3 separate regions of the Homo sapiens genome follow, and regions 1 and 3 are each linked to region 2. Evidence: fine-mapped expression QTL. A gene starts in region 2. Each other region holds a variant in brackets. All regions are shown on one strand. Distances are between the middles of the regions.

Region 1 (4,672 bases), 100 kb before region 2:
GAATCTCGTGGCCTTGGGTGCTTGGGAGGTGAAGGGACCAGGTGCTGGCTCGAGGTCCCGGAGGGCTCTAGAAAGCAAGCAGAGTGATGGGACGTCAGAAAGGCTGTCAGGGAAGGGAGTCACCCGGTGGGGAGGCCACAGCCCACCCGTGGCCCTGCAGCCCCGAGGCAGTGGTCCTTGGGGGTCCACAGGCAGCAGCACCCCTGCACCCCACTTTCTGTGTTCCCAGCCCTGTGACCCCTGACTCGCATGGGCGGGCCCACCTCTGGGGCAGGCAAGGAGGCCACGAAGCCTGGTTCTGGCCCTGGGTCCTCTGTGTCCTGTCCCTGAGAAGGAGACCACAAGGCCTGGCTCTGACCCTCGGTCATCTGTGTCCTGACCCTGAGAGCCTGTTCACTGGCTGACCGCCCCGGGCCGGTTCCCAAGCCTTGGGTCCCCCAGCACCCGCCTCCACCGGTGTCTGGAGCCCTGGCATGCCTTTGTCCTGACCCTGCCCTGAGGCCACTGCAGCTCCCCTCCTCCTGGCCGCCCTGCCTGCCCTCCCTCCACCCCTGCAGGTCACGGCCACTAGGTAACCAGCTGTTGACCCCTCTGTCTGCCCCCTCCACAGACACCCACCACCATATGGAAGAGCAGAGGCTTGGCCTGCCCTGTTCCCTGCCCATCCCAGCCCCCTTAACCAGGCTCCTGCACAGAGGAGGGTCAGCTGCCCACCGTGGGGTCGCCCCTGCTTACACTGCCCCCTGCCCGGCCTGCCTGCCCGCTGAGGGAGGGTCCTCTCTGCTTTGCAGCTGTGATCACACTGAAGTCAGTGTCCTTCGTAAAGGGCACTGCATGGCTTAATTCTATGTCCCCAAGTGCGCGTGCCATCTTCAGGGTGAAGCGGCAGCACCCTCCTGCCTTGGTCTCCCAGTGGGGCTGCTGGCCGCCTTTCCTCCCAGCCCCCGGACTCATGCCTGTGTCCCTGAAAGCTGCCCAGTGGCCATGTTCTGCCTGCTGGTGCCCTGGGGTGGCTCCTTCTTTCTGTCCCGACTCCTCTGGACTCTGTTCATACCCCCTTTTGTGGAACGCCTCTCTTTCGTCCAGCCCGGGTGGCACACAAGGTCACAGGGATTGGACCGTGGCTTGGGAGAGGACTTGGGTTGGGCCTCCCTTGGTCGTGAGCCCCCCACCCCCAGAAGGGGGCCTCCCTGTTACAGTCCCTCTCAGAGCATGGCTGAGGAAGCAGGGCCAGGTTGACACATCTGATCTGGGGTAAGGGCCCCCCTATAGAAGTGGGGTGTTGGTCACTCCCAGGCACTGGGGGGCAGGCGGGCAGGCTCAGTACCTGAGGCCAGGCTTGGGGGGCTGGAGGGAGTCTTGGGCTCTGCCTGGTGCACTTGCTCTTCAGGGACCCTCCGTGGGCCCCAGGGGGCTACAGCCCCTTCCTGTTGGGACTCCGGGTGCCTATAGGGGAGGGGGCTAGGGTGGGGAGAGGAGGAGAAGCTCCAGCCCTGATCCCCCCACGGGACAGGACACATAGGGATGGTCCATGAGCCTTGGGACTGGGGATGACTCAGCCAAGGTAGCCCCAGCCCTGATCCCCCCACGGGACAGGACACACAGGGATGGTCCACGAGCCTTGGGACCAGCGATGACTCAGCCAAGGTAGCCCCAGCCCTGATCCCCCCACGGGACAGGACATGCAGGGATGGTCCACGAGCCTTGGGACTGGGGATGACTCAGCCAAGGTAGCCCCAGCCCTGATTTCCCCACGGGACAGGACACACCCAGTGGAAGAGCTGGAGGGACACCCACCGCACGCCATGTTCCCTCCAGGCCCTGAGCCCAGCCAAGGCCAGGAAGTCAGAGCTGTCTGCAGGGTCAGGCTCTGGGGTGGAAGTGCTGGCGGCCGGATCTCCTGGCCTGTGTTGGGGCAGCTGCTCGGGGGGCTCCCTGGCCTGGGGAGGAAAAGGGACTGCTTTAGGGATTCTGGCCCTGGAATGGCGGCAGGGCAGGGCACTGTCAGGGCCGCAACCCTGGACACTGGTTCTCGTGGGGGGCTGGTCCCTGTGGGCTGTACCTGGCACTGGTGCCTACGCTCCCGCAGGCCCTTGGTGGGGTTCCCACAGAGGACTTGGCCAGCACCTGCAAGAGACAGCATGGCTGGGCCTGGTTCGGGGCCGAGGGGCTGCAGGGTCAGCTTTGAGGCAAGTCAGTTACCATGGGTGAGGCTGCTGGTGTTATCTTCTGGGGCCAGGTCCTCAGAAAGCAGGCCTTCAGGCAGGGGGCCCCCACGGACCAGCAGGGAGAAGGGCCAGGGCCTGGAGGCCCGGGACTGCGTCTCAGGCAGGGACAGCTCGGGGTCAAGTCTCCGGATGGGGGCTCCACGGGGACAGTCTGCCCGAGGTTCAGAAGCAGAGGTCACCAAGGCCCAGCCTGAGAGCGCCCCCCAGACTCTGTCCACAGACCAGGGGCCCCAATCCCCATGCTGCATGGCCTGAGGCTGGCCTCTCACGCTGCAGCCTTCTAGAGAGGCCCTCATCTTCAGACCTTCCTCTCCCTCTGTGGGCTGCTCAGAGACAGTGTCCTGGCCTGGGGCCGGGTGTGCACAGCTCTGGGGACCGGGGTCAAGGCTGGAGAAG[C/T]GCATGAGATGTGGCTATCCGTTTCTGAGAAGCCTGGGGTGGGGGCCTCTTCCTGGGGGGAGCTGGGGCTCAGCAGTGGGTCCTCCGGGCGCAGCTGCCGTACCCAGCGGGGGAAGGCCGTTGCCCTTCTTGATGGCCTCCTTCACCGCAAGCCAGTCCTGGCTCAGCCGCGGGGGGGCCGGTGGGCCTGTGTGTGCGGCCGGCACTTCGTCCAGGACCTGCAGCTGGGGAATGAGCTTCCTCACCTCTGCCCTGTAGTTGTAGCCCCTGGGCACCTGCAGGGGGAGGGGGAGGGGGAGGGAGGGCAGGTCTGGGTCCAGTGTTTCCTTCCGGCCAGCTCTTTCCCTGGCTCCCTTTCCCAGACCCACCGTGGGGCAGGGCAGGGGCCCAGAGGTGGGGATGCTGCCTACCCTGCAGGGGTGGGCTTGGGTCACTCTCACACCCCAGGGACTGAGGGACTGGGCTCTCACCTGCTCAGGATGTAGGACCCCACTCTCCAGACCCAAGGCCGGGTCCAGGGATGCCCTCTGGCCCATGGAACTGCCCTCAGCTCAGGGCTCTGGCCCACGGAGCAGTAGCTACTGGGCACTGGTAGACGCTGACCTCAGCATGTGGCAGCACCAAGCAGCAGCTAATGAGGCTAGCACTGTGAGCTCAGGGCAGATGTGCCCTGTGTAGGGTCTGTGAGCTACGCCAGGGCCTGCACGCACAGGTGTGCCAGCTCTGAGCAGGGCACGCAGAGCCCCGAGATACTGCATAGGGTGGTCTGTGGGGCCTGTGGGGCTGGAGGTGGCTCTGGACAGGGCGTACACAGGTGTGTGTGTGCACACATCCGTGTACACGTGGTTCTTTGTGTTTCCACGTGGCTTATGTGTGGACCTCACAGGTGCATATGTGGGTTAAGGGACATGGCGTGTGTGCAGGTGACCCTGTGGGATCTAGCGGGGCTGGTCCAGGAGGGTGTCCTGGGAGCCGTCAGACTTCCAGTGACAGAGGAGGTGAACTCATGGTGAGCAGGCCATAGGGTGCGGGTGGGCACAGAAGTACCTGGCCAGAGGAGGGGCCCCGGGGCTGGAGCCACAGGGAGCCTCTCCTGGCCATGCACATGCTGGCCGGGTGCCCGGGACACGCACCTTGTTGGTGGGGCCAGGGGCCGGCTGTAGGCACACCAGGTTGCCCTCCAGGGTGAGCATGGCCAGGCGTGGGCACAGCTGCAAGTAGCGCACCTGCCCCAGGTCCTCCACGCTGTTGCCCTCCAGGTCCAGCACCTCCAATTGTTCCAGCAGGCACAGTGGGCTCAGGTCCGAGATGTTGTTGTAGGAGGCGTAGAGTTCCTGGGCAGCGCGGGGCTCTGAGCCAGGGCCCGGCCCAGCCCAGGCCTCCCCAGCCCAGGGTGCCCAGACTCACCTTAAGTGCTGGCAAAGAGGCGATGCCATCCAGGTCAGCGAGGCCACAGCGAGCCAGCCACAGCACCTGCAGGTGGCCCAGAGACGTGCCCAAGTCCCTGCAGAAGGCAGGGTTTGGTGGTCAACATGTGCCCAGCCCTGTGCTCAGCCACCACCTGCCTTTGGCTGTCTTCAGGGGTAGGGGCAGGTGTGACCACCTATGGTGGCCTCTAGACTGAGGAAGGGGCTCTCTGCCTTGGCCTTCTGGCTCTGGTGTGGGTACAGTGTCCCCCACCTTCTCCAAGCCCTGGAGGGCCTGGCTTGGGGAGCTGCCCTCGTGACCGGTGGCTCAGCTGTGCCCAAGGCGCTGCCCTCATAGTGGGTGGCTCAGTCCCCTCCCTGGCAGGCTGCAGGCATCACCTTTCTCTTTCTAATTGTCTCCTCAGTAGCGTTTGGGGCACTCGAATTTGGAGTAAGGGTCTGGAGTGCTGCCTGGGAGCCTGAGCCCCTGGACACCGATGTGGGGGGCTTCGCTGGAGGCTGACCCCGTGCTGAGCTGGCAGCTTTTGTGGGGACCAGCTGCTGGAGGTGGCGGTGGGTCAGGGCGGCTTGATGTGTGCAGGGACAGGTTGCTTCCTGCCGGGCCCACCCTGTTCCCACTGT
Region 2 (6,803 bases):
GAGGAAGTGCACCCATCCTTGAAAATGAACGCCCTGGCTGGATGTGGTGGTGCATGCCTGTAATCTCAGCAATCTGGGAGGCTGAGGCGGAAGGATCACTTGAGGCCAGGAGTTGAAGACCAGCCTGGGCAACACAGGGGGACCCTCTATTAAAAATAAATAAATAAATAAAAATGAATAAAAAATAAAAAGTAAAACTCTCTAAAACACAAAATTAGAGTTAAAAAAATGCCAGCACAGCAAGTCAGTGCAGGTGGACTCAGGAGGTCAGTGTGAGGCTCTGCAGGTAATGAATTCTCACCAGGCAGGCATTGAGTTACCTGCCACCCAGAAGCGTGAAGCTCCTTCCTCTGCACAGGGAAGGGAGGAGGCACAGCAAGAACCTGCCCCATGCGTCTCTACAGGGACAGGGTCGAGGGGAAAGCCAGAGCCAGAGCCACCCACCCAGAAGACCCAGGAAGGAGGTACCTGGACCAGCCAGCCCCGCTGCACCCGCTCCTGGAGAGCCCTCCTGACCCCCTTGGCCTCCTGACAGGCAAGCTCTGCTGCGCCCAGCCGTCTGTGTCCCAAACACCCCTTGTGGGCAGGGACCACTGGTCTGGGCTTCTAAAGAGACCGGCCCCCTCCTACCTTTGGGCTGCTGCTCCTGCTTCCCTGGTACTGGGTGGGCTGCGCAGGCTTGCATGTGCCCCCTGGCTCCTGCCACACTCAGCACCCAGCCAGCACATTTTGAGCCTTCTGAAGTTCCATGCCTGCACCAGAATCTAAGCTTCTTGTTTAGTTCTCTGCTATGTCCCGTAGAACGGTAACTGACAGGCAGTAGGGGTCCCCACAATGTGCTGAACGGCCAAATGAGAAACAAGAAGAGCCAGTCTGGTCTCCTCGCTCCGGGACCTCAGAGGAGCCCGTCTGTTCTCCTTGCTCCGGGATGTCAGAGGAGCCCGTCTGGTCTTCTTGCTCCGGGACCTCAGAAGAGCCAGTCTGGTCTCCTTGCTCCAGGACCTCAGAGACTCCGGTGGTCCCCAGCTGTGCTGCGGGAGGACAGCCTGAAGGGGTGTGGCAGGGCACCTGATGGAGAGGCCTGATGTCCACAGGGCCCGGAAGCCAGAGGGTCCACGTGGCAGGCACCCCATCTCCTCTCCCTCCCGAGGGCCCCGCAGCCACCCGGTACACTCATCTCCCCAAAGGAGAGCTCGGATGCCCTCCCTGCAACAGCAGCTGCCCACACCTCACGGAAGACCCTGCGTGGGGCCTCCTCCACCCTAACCTGCTTTCCCACCACTTGGACAGTCTCTCTCCAGAGCTTCGGCTGCGGTGACAGGCCAGGACCGGTTAAGTCCCTGTCTGTGGTGGCGCCTTCCCCTGACAAGTCCCTTACTCCTCCATCAGGCCCTCCTCGCCCCTCAGATTTGCTCTCCGACCATCCCACAGCATGGTTCTCTTGGAAGCGTCCATAAAGCCTTCCTTCCACTGCTGGCCGCAGGCGCCTGTCTCCCACACGTTTTCCTGGGGCTGACCCCACCTCTACTGCCCCTGTGCCCCCGGGCCTTCCACAGGATGGGAACTGGGCACCTTGCAGTCAAGAAGAGCCAAACCCTCCTCTCACGAAGCCTGCTTTCAGGTCGACGGCTTGATCCTTCTCACAGAGGAGCATCGGCAAAGGGCCAGCCCAGGGTCGCAGCTGTCGGGAGTAGGAGCGGCACCTGGAGCCTGTCTGGACACAGAGTGCCACACTCCAGCTGCTCCCGGGGGCCTCTTCCTTTTCCACCCCCATTAAAGGCAGAGTGGCGGACAGGGGGACCCCAAGGTGTAGCTAGGGCTGAGTTGTGCAGGGAGGAGGCGCTGGCCCCGCTAGGGGCAACTGAGGAGAGAAACAGAGCCTGGATTCGACGAACACCGACTACATTCCTGAAGCACGCACAACACTCTGCTAATCAACACGATCGCCACGTGGGGTCGGGCGCGACACACAAGATGATTTCGTGCAGCCGCAAGCACTGAGGAGCAACCACAGGCAGAATGACGGGGGACACAGGTGAAGCTTCGACAGCAGGACAGAGAAAGCGTTTCTGGGGTGACGCTGGAGGCGGGTGGCGGGGAAGGGGTCTGGATCGCAGAACCGCGCGGTCAGAGCCAAGGCGGGCAGGGGTGGGGAGGGCGGCGAGAGAGACGCAAAGCGGCCGCAGGGAGGGTCTGCCCAGGGTCTCCCCCACCTACAGCGCCGCCCTCCGCCCGACCCGGCGTCGGGAGCTCGGTCCGGCCGCTCCCCGGGACCCGGGGGGCGGTGCTGCCACACCCTCAAACCCCCGGCCACAGTCCTGGACTCCAAGACGGCGAGAGGGCGCTGCCGGGGACCCCCAGGCCAGCGGTGCCGGAACCCCCAGGTCGAGGGCACCCTCGCCGCCCCGCGGCCGCCCACTGCCCTCACCAGAAGAAGGTGTTGGTGCCGTCGTCGTAGACCTCGGACTCGGTGCTGCGGCGGCCCTCGCCCGGCCCGGTGGCTTGGCCGGCAGACGGCCCGTCAGGCGGCTCCTCCAGCGAGGCCCTGCCCGCGGGCACCGGGGACTCGGGCCGCGGACCTCCGGCGTCCCTGCGCTCGCCCCTCCGCATGGCGTTTCGGCCCGGAGCCACTCCGCCCGGCGCCTCGACCCCACGCACACCGGGTCACCGGCGAGAGGACGCGCCGCACACAGCGCGAGGAGCGCTGGGAAGGGGTCGCGGCGCTGGCCCGCGGGGTCTTAGGAGAGCAGCGCGGGGCCGGCCAGTAAAGGGTGTGCGGTGCATTGTGGGGCTTGTAGTCCGCGCGGGGCATGCTGGGCCTTGTGGTCCGACGTCGCGGGTTGGACGCAGTGCTTGCTGGGAAGGATGACGCCTGGTTGCTGGGAAACCGGAGCCGGACCGCCCTGCGGCTGAGGTCGCAGGAACCAAGCTGCGGATGGCGCGGGTCTCGCCAAGGCCTCCAGAGCTTGGAGGTAACCACAGACATCCCCGGCGGCCTGGCCCGAGTCCCTCCACCCCTTCGCCCCTTCCTCGCCGACGGATCCCGGAGCCCAGCCCCGTTCTCCTTTTGGGGCGCTTCCCGACCCTTCACCCCATGCGACCCGGGTCATTCCTTTTTGAGACGGAGTCTCGCACTGCCGCCCGAGCTGGAGTGCAATGGCGCGATCCCGGCTCACTGCAACCTCCGCCTCTCGGATTCAAACGATTCTTCTGTCTCAAGCTTCCCGAGTAGCTGGGATTACAGGCGGCCGCCATCACGCCCGGCTAATTTTTGTATTTTTAGTAGAGACGGGGTTTCACTATGTTGGCCAGGCCAATCTCGAACTCCTGACCTTGTGATCTGCCGCCTCGGCCTCCCAAAGTGCTGGGATTACAGGCGCGAGCCACCGCGCCCGGACCGGTCTGGGTCATTCTTTCGCAGGATCGCGTGAAATTGGGCGGGCGAAAATGGTGCGGACACGCTGATTTTAGTTGACCCAAATTGTTGACATGGTACCCTGCAAAAAAATTAGCTCCTGAGCCACTCTGAAAAGCAATGTGGCAGCTCCTCAAACCTGGAAACAAGTGTCCACGCCAAATTTACACACTAGCGCTCCTAGTTGCAGCATTTTGATAATAGCGGCATGTTATTAGCCATAGAGGAGCGAAGCATGCGCATGCTACAGCACAGCTGGACCTTGAAAACATTATGCTAGGCAGGCCGGGCGCGGCGGCGCACGCCTGTCATCCCAGCACTTTGGGAGGCCAAGGCGGGCGGATGACTTGAGGTCAGGAGTTCGAGACCAGCCTAGGCAAAGTGGTGACACCCCATCTTTACTAAAAATACAAAAATTGCCCTGGCATTGTGGCGGGCGCTTGTAATCCTAGCTACTCGGGAGGCTGAGGTGGGAGAATCCCTTAAATCCGGGAGGTGGAGGTTGCAGTGAGCCGAGATTGTGCCACTGCACTCCATCCTGGGCGACAGAGCGAGACTCCGTCTCAAAAAAAAAAAAAAAAATGCTAGGTGAAAGAAGCCAGTCACAGGAGACTACGCATTATGTGATCCATTTGTATGAAATGTCCAGGAAATGCAAATCTATGAAGACAGAAATTAGATGAGTTTTCACCGGGGGCTGGGGAAGGGGTAATAAGGAGCGACTACAAAGGGTAGCAGGTTTCTTTCGGGGCGATGAAAGTGCTGTAATATTGACCTCAGCTCCTATCTGTGAATGTCCTAAAAACCACTCAACTGTCCACTCGAAACGAGTTGAATGGGTGAACTGCATGATATGTGAAGTATATCTCATATCAGCTTTATTGAAATATAACTCACATACTAAATATATAAACATATTTGCGGGGCTCCTGCACAGCCACGCCCAGCAGGGATGGGGCCTGACTGTGATGGGACCTTCACCCCAGCTCCTGACACACAGGCTGGGCAGTGCGGGAGGCGCTGGCTCCAGGGGGCGTGCTGTTGGGCCTCCCCAGGCCTGGCCCCCTGCCCCAGGCCCTGGCCGCGTCCAGCTGGGGTCGGCTGAGTGGCCAGAGCAGCCAGCTCCCGTCCATGCCATCTTTCCAGCAATCACCCGACAGGCCTGGTTCCCTGTGAACCATCCTTCAGGTCCCCTCCCAGACCTCTTCCCATCCCAGCAGGTGGCGCTCACATTCCAGGCGCCCTCTCGGTGGCGTTGGGGTCATTTCCTGCGTATGGGTGTTCTCTCAAACTGCACAGAGAGCCCTCCTGCCGTCCCTCCAGGGTGCAGAGGCCGGGGCGGGGAGATGTACCGGCCCCACTGGGGTCCCTGGCCCCAAGGAAGCTGCGCGCGAGGCCGCCTCGCAATGACGCTCGTTCCTGTCGGCTCGGGGGCGGGGCCCAAGGGCGCGTGAGGGGCGGGGCCGAGGACATGGTCTGTGGGCGGGGCCTGAGGGCGGGGCCTTGGGACCCGGAGTAGCGTGATCTAGACCGCGCGGCCCCGCCAGACCGCGCGGCCCCGGGCGCGCAGACCACGTGTTCGTTGCCCATCACTACGGAGCTCTGGCCACGTGCCAAGTAGAATTCCCAACGCTTTGTAAATGCTAACTATTGTGATTTTTTTTTTTTTAAGCGTAGTCTCACTCTGTCACCCAGGCCTGGAGTGCAGTGGCGTGATCTCGGCTCACTGCAACCTCCGCCTCTCGGGTTCAAGCGATTCTCCTGCCTCAGCCTCCGGAGTAGCTGGGATTAAAGGCGCCCGCCATCACGCCCGGCTAATTTTTGTATTTTTAGTAGAGACGGGGTTTCACCAAGTTGGCCAGGCTGGTCTCGAACTCCTGACCTCAGGTGATCCACCCACCTTGGCCTCCCAAAATGCTGGGATTACAGGCGTGAGCCACCGCGCCGGGCCAACTATTGTGATCTTAACACACCCCCTTAGGTTCTATTTTTGACTGTCGCTTAGAGACAAAAAAACTGTGGCAGAGAAGGCCGGGCGCGGTGGCTCAAGCCTGTAATCCCAGCACATTGGGAGGCCGAGGCGGGTGGATCACAAGGTCAGGAGATCGAGACCATCCTGGCTAACACGGTGAAAGCCCATCTCTACTAAAAATACAAAAAATTACCCGGGCGTGGTGGCGGGCGCCTGTAGTCCCAGCTGCTCGGGAGGCTAAGGCAGGAGAATGGTGTGAACCTGGGAGGCAGAGCTTGCAGTGAGCTGAGATCACGCCACTGCACTCCAGCCTGGGTGACAGAGCAAGACTCCGTCTCAAAAAAAAAAAAAAAAAAAAAAAAAGAAACAAACAAAAAAAAAACTGAGGCAGAGAAAGGTTGGTGACAGCTACGCCCAGCTCTTTCCAGACCCCAGAGCCTCTACCCTGAACCCCTGCACTCTACAGGGAGCTCTCCACCTGCAGTTTTGCACCTGGCGTCTCATATCTGAGTCTCACATTACCCTGTCCCTGTCTTCACCCCAGCTGCAGAAGTGCACACCCCTCCCCACCCAGGCATGTGTGGACTGGCAGAGTCCATTGCAAGACGTGGGCCTGAGGGGCAGGGGTGAGGCCGGAGGTTTGTGGCTCAGGGAGCACCGTGGCTGGTGAGGAGGCAGTGGAGCAGCTTGGAGGACTTGGTTCTTTGAGGCCCCAGAGCAGCAGAACTGGGGGTCCCCCGCCTGGGGAAGGGTGCACGGGACAGAAGCCTTCCTCAGCTGCAGAGATGCCTGCCAGAAGCCTCAGGGCGCTGGAACTTTTAAGAAAATGGTCAATTCTGGCCTTACCCAGGGACAGAGCTGGCCAGAGTCACATTTATGGTGGTAAATAGTGAATGTTGGCGAAATGCTTTCTAAAAATGCCCTTGCAAGGAAGGGAGAGGAAGCCTAGGAATTTGTAAAGTAACAAATGCCTGTTGTAATATTTCCCCTGGTGCGGTAAATCCATAAAGGTGAGTGGATTACAGAAAAACTCACCGTGCCACACGCACACCTGTGCCCGGGAGTTTTCTCTGGCTTGTTGGAGGGAGCGTGGACAGCAGGACTGCTCCCCAAGTCAAGATGGTTAAGGCCTGGAGGTGTTGGGGAGGCAGCAAGGAGACAGAGTTGTCCCTGCAATGAGGACGGGAGGGGTTTGGGTCCCCACCCCAATGCCACCCTGGTGTGGCAGGCAAGGATGGCTTCAGGTGGTCCTCAAGGGCAGAGGCCCAGCTGGGAGAGGGTCTCCCCTGCAGGGGCTTCAGGCTGGGGGTCGCCTGCCAAGCACTGTCAGCCAAGAGAGGCTGGAGCCAGCAGGGTGCCTGAGACCAGCCCAGAGAGAGTACAGGGGCAGGTTCTCAGAGGCACCGACTCCAGCTG
Region 3 (6,803 bases), 36 kb after region 2:
GAAAGTGGGCGAAGGGGGCGGGGGCCACCCTTTCCTCTGCCCGACGTGGTCAGCGGCTTTTTGGTGACCCTCGCGCAGAACAGAGCGGGGCTAGGAGCGCCGAGGCGCGCAGGGATCCCACCTCGGTCGCCCAAGCCTGGATCCCAGCTCGAGGCTTCCTGAGGCGCCGAGGGCGGACCAAGAGTCAGGCTGGGGCCCGAGCTCGCCCGGCGCCGGGTGGAGCTTCCGCCATCCGCGCGCCTCTGCCCCGGCCGAGCGCCCCGAGCCGCACCCCCGTGCCCGCCTCCCGCGCGCGTCCTCGTTCTCCGCCCTCCTCACTTGGAGGGCGCCCAGGGCGCAGGTGGGCGCGGGGTAGGGGAGCGAACCAGAGCCCCTCGGCCTGCGGGGCCGCAGCCTTTTACCCACGTTCCTGCTTCAGGACAGGCGCTGGGGGCCCAGCGCGCACGGGGAGCGGAGGGGCGGCGCGTCCGAGCTGAGCGGGAGTCGCCCGCAGGGTGCTGGGTGCTGAGCGTCGAACCCACCGGGCAGGGGCGGCCGCGGACCGAGGACGCTGGCTGGGTCTGAGGGCGGGAGGAGCTGGCGCTTTCTAAGAACCTCAAGGTGCCCAGCAGAGTGCGGTGGGCAGTGCGAGGCGACCAGGGCCAGGCTTGGACTGAGATTCTGGGCGCCTCGGAAGAGCTGTGCGGGCGAGGGTCGGAGACTTTGTGGGTGTTCATGCTCACCCTGGACGGTGGACCTGGGGGCTCGGGGGTGCAGGACGTTAGCAGAGAGAGGGAAGGAGAGGGTGCCAAGCCAGCCCTGAGAGATGGTGACGCTGAGACCGGGTGCACAGAGCAGCCGCCGAGCCGGGGCTTCACAGTTGGCGGCTGACCCCAGGGCCTGTGCTGGAGGCCCTGCTCCTGCTTCCTGCGGGGGTGCCCTGGGCCCTGCTGTGCCTGCTTCCTGACCTGCAGTGTGGGGAGAACCTTCTTGAGGGGCTTCCAAGGACCCACTTCAAGGAGGGGCTGGTACCAGGCTCTGTGGGGGAAGGGGTGCTGTCTTTGGGACCCTGAGCCCAAGGCCCACCATCACCCAAGGCTGAGTACCGGGACAAAGGAAGGTCCTAGCAGGGCTGGGACTCAGTCAGACAAGTACCTGTAGAAAGCCTGCTGCTGAGAGGGTGCTCAGCCAGGGCCGGGAGGCTGGATGGCAGCCCTCCACAATGAAGCCCTGCCCCCATGTGGCTGAGGGCAGGGCCAGGGTCCAAAGGAGACCCTTGTCTGATTCTGTGGGCAATACCAGCCACCGGTCACTGGGTCCCCAGTCCCAGGTCAACCTGGGGAGTGTCAGTTTGGTGACAACAGGAGATGCCATCTGCCCCTCATCTGCTCTGAGCCAGGAGCCTCGGCCACCTGTGTTTGCTCCTTATTTGGAAAAGGGGGCGCTGCCCTCCCACCCCAGCCTGAAGGGAAGGTCCACAAGATGCCATAGTCCCTTGTAACTGCTCACCCATCGGGGGAGCTATGTCTGGGAGAGGGACGGGGAGAGGGCGGAAGAGTTCTGCTGGAGCCCCATTGTTGACCGGGAGTTTCTGAAGGCCCTGTTCCCCGGGGTCAGAGGTCAAAGACACATGGGGGAGCAAACCGGCCCCTTGGCTCCTGAGTGTGAGCTCTAGTAGCGTCTGGAAGGCATGCCGCGCGGTCCCCGGTCCTCCTTGTATGTGTGCAGGGTGGCCCTGGCGGGGGTCTCCTGGCTGGAGGACCCCCCATGCATTACCCCTGGAACCTGCCCCTTTGAGCACCCCCCACCCCACAACACACACGCACACACACAAACGCACGCACACGCACATACTGCACACACATTGCACACACGCAGACACACTGCACACACACACACACACACACACACACACACACACACACACACGCTGCACAGAGGAAAGTGCCGTGCCTGGGTGGGTTGGGGCGGGCTCCAGAGGAAGGAGCCGCTTGACTCAGAGCTACAGGAAGAGCCGGGGCAGGCGGGGTGAGAACCACCAACTGCCCGTCCTCCCGCCCGCCTAGGGAAGGGGTGGGTGCCTGGGTGGGGTTTAGGGTTAGGAGAGGATGTGACTGCAAGGCCAGGAAGCTACAGGGAAAGTTCTGATCAAAATACACAAAGACACAAGCCAGGTCCCCACCGCGCTTGGCGATGCATCCATAGCAGCCTTGGTGCTGTGGACACTCCCTGGGGCCCAGCGAAGGGGAGAGTTTGCTCCCAAAGGCGCACCAATGACCAACATTTGCCCCCCGGAGGAAAGAACTGGAACCAGGTGACTGCCTTCCCCGCTGCTCTGAGTGAGCCTGTGTCAGGGCCTGGCTGAGAGGAGGCCCACGGCGCCCAAGACCCATATGCATGTGTGTGCATGTGTGTGTGAGACAGAGCGAGGGGCAGCAGGAGGCTGTGTCGCATCAGCGGCCAAGGGTGGGTGTCAGGTGCAGTGTGTGTGCTGTGGGGTGCCTGTGGTCCTAGGCTCTGTGACAAGCGTTGCAATGGGTGTTGTATATACTCAACAGTTGTGTGAGGGGTCTGCAGCCTAAGCTGTGTGCAGTGGTAATGGGAGGTGTGTGTGGTAGGAAGTGTGCTGTGTAGGAGGTGCAAGTGTGCACACGGGCTGAGACTGAAGCTCTGTGCAGGTGCACATGGGCCAGAGGGCTGTGTGTATGTGATGTGTGCAGGGGAGGAGGGGCAGAGGAGAGGGTGCAGGGGAAGTTAGGGAGGGGAGGGGGTACAAGGAAAGGTGTGCAGGGGAGAGGGTGCAGGGAAAGGTGGGGAGGGGAGAGGGTGCAGGGGAAGGTAGGCAGAGGAGAGGGTGCAGGGGAGAGGGTGCAGGGGAAGGTGTGCAGGGAAAGGTGGGGAGGGGAGAGGGTGCAGGGGAAGGTAGGCAGAGGAGAGGGTGCAGGGGAAGGTGTGCAGGGGAGAGGGTGCAGGGAAAGGTGGGGAGGGGAGAGGGTGCAGGGGAAGGTAGGCAGAGGAGAGGGTGCAGGGGAAGGTGTGCAGGGAAAGGTGGGGAGGGAGAGGGTGCAGGGGAAGGTAGGCAGAGGAGAGAGTGCAGGGGAAGGTGTGCAGGGGAGAGGGTGCAGGGAAAGGTGGGGAGGGGAGAGGGTGCAGGGGAAGGTAGGCAGACGAGAGTACAGGGAAAGGTAGGGAGGAGAGAAGGTGCAGGAGGAGGCAGGCAGAAGAGAGGGTGCAGGGGAAGGTGGGGAGGGGAGAGGGTGCAGGGGGAGGCAGGCAGAGGAGAGGGTTCAGGGGAGAGGGTGCAGGGGAAGGTGGGCAGGGGAAGGTGGGGAGTGGAGAGCGTGCAGGGGGAGGCAGGCAGAGGAGAGGGTGCAGGGGAAGGTGCGTAGGGGAGAGGGAGCAGGGGAGAGGGTGCGGGAAGAGGGTGCAGGGGAGGGTTTGCAGGGAGAGGGTGCAGGGGAGAGGGTGCAAGGAGAGGCAGGCAGCGGAGAGGGTGCAGAGGAGGGTTTGCAGGGGAGGGCACCTGCTTTCTTGCTGTGCTCGTATCCTGGCAGTCTGCCCTTGACTTCCAGAAGGCTCTGAGGCTGCTTTTGGAGGGAGGACTTTGAGGTCTGAGCTTGGGGCGGTCACGGAAGCACTGCAGGAGATGCCAGGGGTTCTGCTGGGCTGGCGGTGTGACC[T/C]CCCGGGCTTGCTGTGAGGGGTTGGTTTCCTGGGAAGTGTGTGCTTTAAGGACCCTCAGTGGGTGGTTCCCCTGGGTCAAGGACTTTCCTTGGAGTGTCCTCCACCGCAAAGGACTTCTTCAAGGACCCCCTGGCCATCCCCCATGGGTGTGTGCCTCATGCTGTATCGGTTCCCGAGGAAACTGCCAAACAGTCAAACCTGGGGCCTCTGGCTGTGCTTCACCCATGGAGAGGGAATAGGTGGCAGGCTAAGAGGACTGTCCCTGCCACTGCCTCTGGGGCCTTAGCGGGGAGGAATCCTGAGGGAGCTGGGGTGCAGAAACTTAGGCTTGATCCCCACATCCCCACTTCCACTGTGTCCCTGCAGCAGGGAGGGGAGTAGACAGTCAGTGCCTGTTGGATAAACAGGGTGACCCTGTGGCATCCAGTGAGGAGAGGCCCCTGGGGCCCTGGGCTGCCAAGGAAGAGGCTCTGGGCTTCTCCCTGCAGCCACCTCACTGAGGAGCTTTGGGAGACTTGAGGTGTGTGTGGCTGCTGCTACGGGCTGGGAAAGGACATGGGACCCGAGACCTCCATCCCCACCGGGCGCTGTTCACCCTCCGGCCTCACAACCGCAGGGCGAGGCTAAGCTGAGGGTTCCCGAGGTGTTTCCCGAGGTGTTTCGAGGTGTCTGTGCTCACGTGCACTCCTGACTGTAACCAGACGTGGGCCAGAGCTGGGCACCCCCCCTCGACTGCATCCAGACATGGTTAGAGCTGGGCACCCCCCCCCCCCGACTGTATCCAGACATGGTCAGAGCTGAGCACCCCTCCCCGACTGTATCCAGACATGTTCAGAGCTGGGCACCCCCCCCCGACTGTATCCAGACATGTTCAGAGCTGGGCACCCCCCCCCGACTGTATCCAGACATGGTCAGAGCTGGGCACCCCCCCCCGACTGTATCCAGACATGGTCAGAGCTGGGCACCCCCCGACTGCATCCAGACATGGTCAGAGCTGAGCACCCCCCCCCGCCCGACTGTATCCAGACATGGTCAGAGCTGGGCACCCCCCGACTGCATCCAGACATGGTCAGAGCTGGGCACCCCCCTCCCCGACTGCATTCAGACATGGTCAGAGCTGGGCACCCCCGCCGACTGCATCCAGACATGGTCAGAGTTGGGCACCCCCCCCCCGACTGTATCCAGACATGGTCAGAGCTGGGCACCCCCCGACTGCATCCAGACATGGTCAGAGCTGGGCACCCCTCCCCGACTGTATCCAGACATGGTCAGAGCTGGGCACCCCCCCCCGACTGTATCCAGACATGGTCAGAGCTGGGCACCTCCCCCCGACTGTATCCAGACATGGTCAGAGCTGGGCACCTCCCCCGACTGCATCCAGACATGGTCAGAGCTGGGCACCCCCCCCGACTGCATCCAGACATGGTCAGAGCTGGGCACCCCCCCCCCCCACTGTATCCAGACATGGTCAGAGCTGGGCACCCCCCTCCCCGACTGCATCCAGACATGGTCAGAGCTGAGCACCCCCCCCCCCCGACTGTATCCAGACATGGTCAGAGCTGGGCACCCCCCTCCCCGACTGTATCCAGACATGGTCAGAGCTGAGCCCCCCCCCCGCCCGACTGTATCCAGACATGGTCAGAGCTGGGCACCCCCCGACTGCATCCAGACATGGTCAGAGCTGAGCACCCCTCCCCGACTGCATCCAGACATGGTCAGAGCTGGGCACCCCCCCCCCCCACCGACTGTATCCAGACATGGTCAGAGCTGGGCAACCCCCACCGACTGTATCCAGACATGGTCAGAGCTGGGCACCCCCCGACTGCATCCAGACATGGTCAGAGCTGGGCACCCCCCGCCGACTGTATCCAGACATGGTCAGAGCTGGGCACCCCCCTCCCCGACTGCATCCAGACATGGTCAGAGCTGGGCACCCCCCTCCCCGACTGCATCCAGACATGGTCAGAGCTGGGCACCCCTCCCCGACTGTATCCAGACATGGTCAGAGCTGGGCACCCCCCTCCCCGACTGTATCCAGACATGGTCAGAGCTGGGCACCCCCGCCGACTGTATCCAGACATGGTCAGAGCTGGGCACCCCCCGACTGCATCCAGACATGGTCAGAGCTGGGCACCCCTCCCCGACTGTATCCAGACATGGTCAGAGCTGGGCACCCCCCCCCCCCGACTGTATCCAGACATGGTCAGAGCTGAGCACCCCTCCCCGACTGTATCCAGACATGTTCAGAGCTGGGCACCCCCCCCCCCGACTGTATCCAGACATGGTCAGAGCTGGGCACCCCCCTCCCCGACTGCATCCAGACATGGTCAGAGCTGAGCACCCCCCCCGCCCGACTGCATCCAGACATGGTCAGAGCTGGGCACCCCCCGACTGCATCCAGACATGGTCAGAGCTGGGCACCCCCCTCCCCGACTGCATTCAGACATGGTCAGAGCTGGGCACCCCCCTCCCCGACTGCATCCAGACATGGTCAGAGCTGGGCACCCCCGCCGACTGTATCCAGACATGGTCAGAGCTGGGCACCCCCCTCCCCGACTGTATCCAGACATGGTCAGAGCTGGGCACCCCCGCCGACTGTATCCAGACATGGTCAGAGCTGGGCACCCCCCTCCCCGACTGCATCCAGACATGTTCAGAGCTGGGCACCCCCCCCCGACTGTATCCAGACATGGTCAGAGCTGGGCACCCCCCGACTGCATCCAGACATGGTCAGAGCTGGGCAACCCCCTCCCTGACTGCATCCAGACATGGTCAGAGCTGGGCACCCCCCCCGGCTGTATCCAGACATGGTCAGAGCTGGGCACCCCCCCCCCCCGACTGCATCCAGACATGGTCAGAGCTAAGCAAAGCCCCCCGCCGACTGTATCCAGACATGGTCAGAGCTGGGCACCCCCACCCCAACTGCATCCAGACATGGTCAGAGCTGAGCACCCCCCACCGACTGTATCCAGACATGGTCAGAGCTGGGCATCTCCCATGGTGTAGGTTACATCACTCACACCCCTGCCCCAAGGCCAGGCTGTGTCTCTGGCACTGCAGCACCCCCTGCAGTGGCAGCTCTGTTGAAGGGGACAGCCAGGAGTGAGGCCAACTGCCATGTCGGGAGACAGGGTCCCACCTAG

What was found. PIP is the estimated chance that this variant, and not a neighbour inherited with it, causes the effect.
Region 1: its variant is the best candidate, but not a certain one, in a credible set for the expression of PTDSS2 in whole blood (TOPMed, PIP 0.55).
Region 3: its variant is the best candidate, but not a certain one, in a credible set for the expression of PTDSS2 in cerebellar hemisphere (GTEx, PIP 0.88).

Annotation. Positions count from the first base shown.
Region 1 is chr11:549,358-554,029 of GRCh38, reverse strand. It overlaps LRRC56 (leucine rich repeat containing 56), which reads right to left. Exons shown (of 14, transcript NM_198075.4): 7 at 4,032-4,128; 8 at 3,758-3,958; 9 at 2,728-2,899; 10 at 2,203-2,379; 11 at 2,063-2,127; 12 at 1,798-1,940; 13 at 1,328-1,461; 14 at 1-67. Among named protein-coding and RNA genes, the nearest start is that of LMNTD2-AS1, 7.6 kb to the left of the region's middle. RefSeq lists an enhancer at 4,247-4,672. The variant C/T (reference allele first, on the strand shown) is at 2,625.
Region 2 is chr11:446,263-453,065 of GRCh38, reverse strand. PTDSS2 (phosphatidylserine synthase 2) reads right to left here and starts at 2,787. Exons shown (of 12, transcript NM_030783.3): 1 at 2,429-2,787. The coding sequence starts at 2,610. RefSeq lists silencers at 2,103-2,192, 2,203-2,262, 2,453-2,692, 4,320-4,629, 4,720-5,009 and enhancers at 2,723-3,002, 2,601-3,287, 5,020-5,159.
Region 3 is chr11:410,313-417,115 of GRCh38, reverse strand. It overlaps SIGIRR (single Ig and TIR domain containing), which reads left to right and starts at 2,117. Exons shown (of 10, transcript NM_001135054.2): 1 at 2,117-2,293. RefSeq lists silencers at 145-224, 255-374, 435-504 and an enhancer at 1,025-1,644. The variant T/C (reference allele first, on the strand shown) is at 3,660.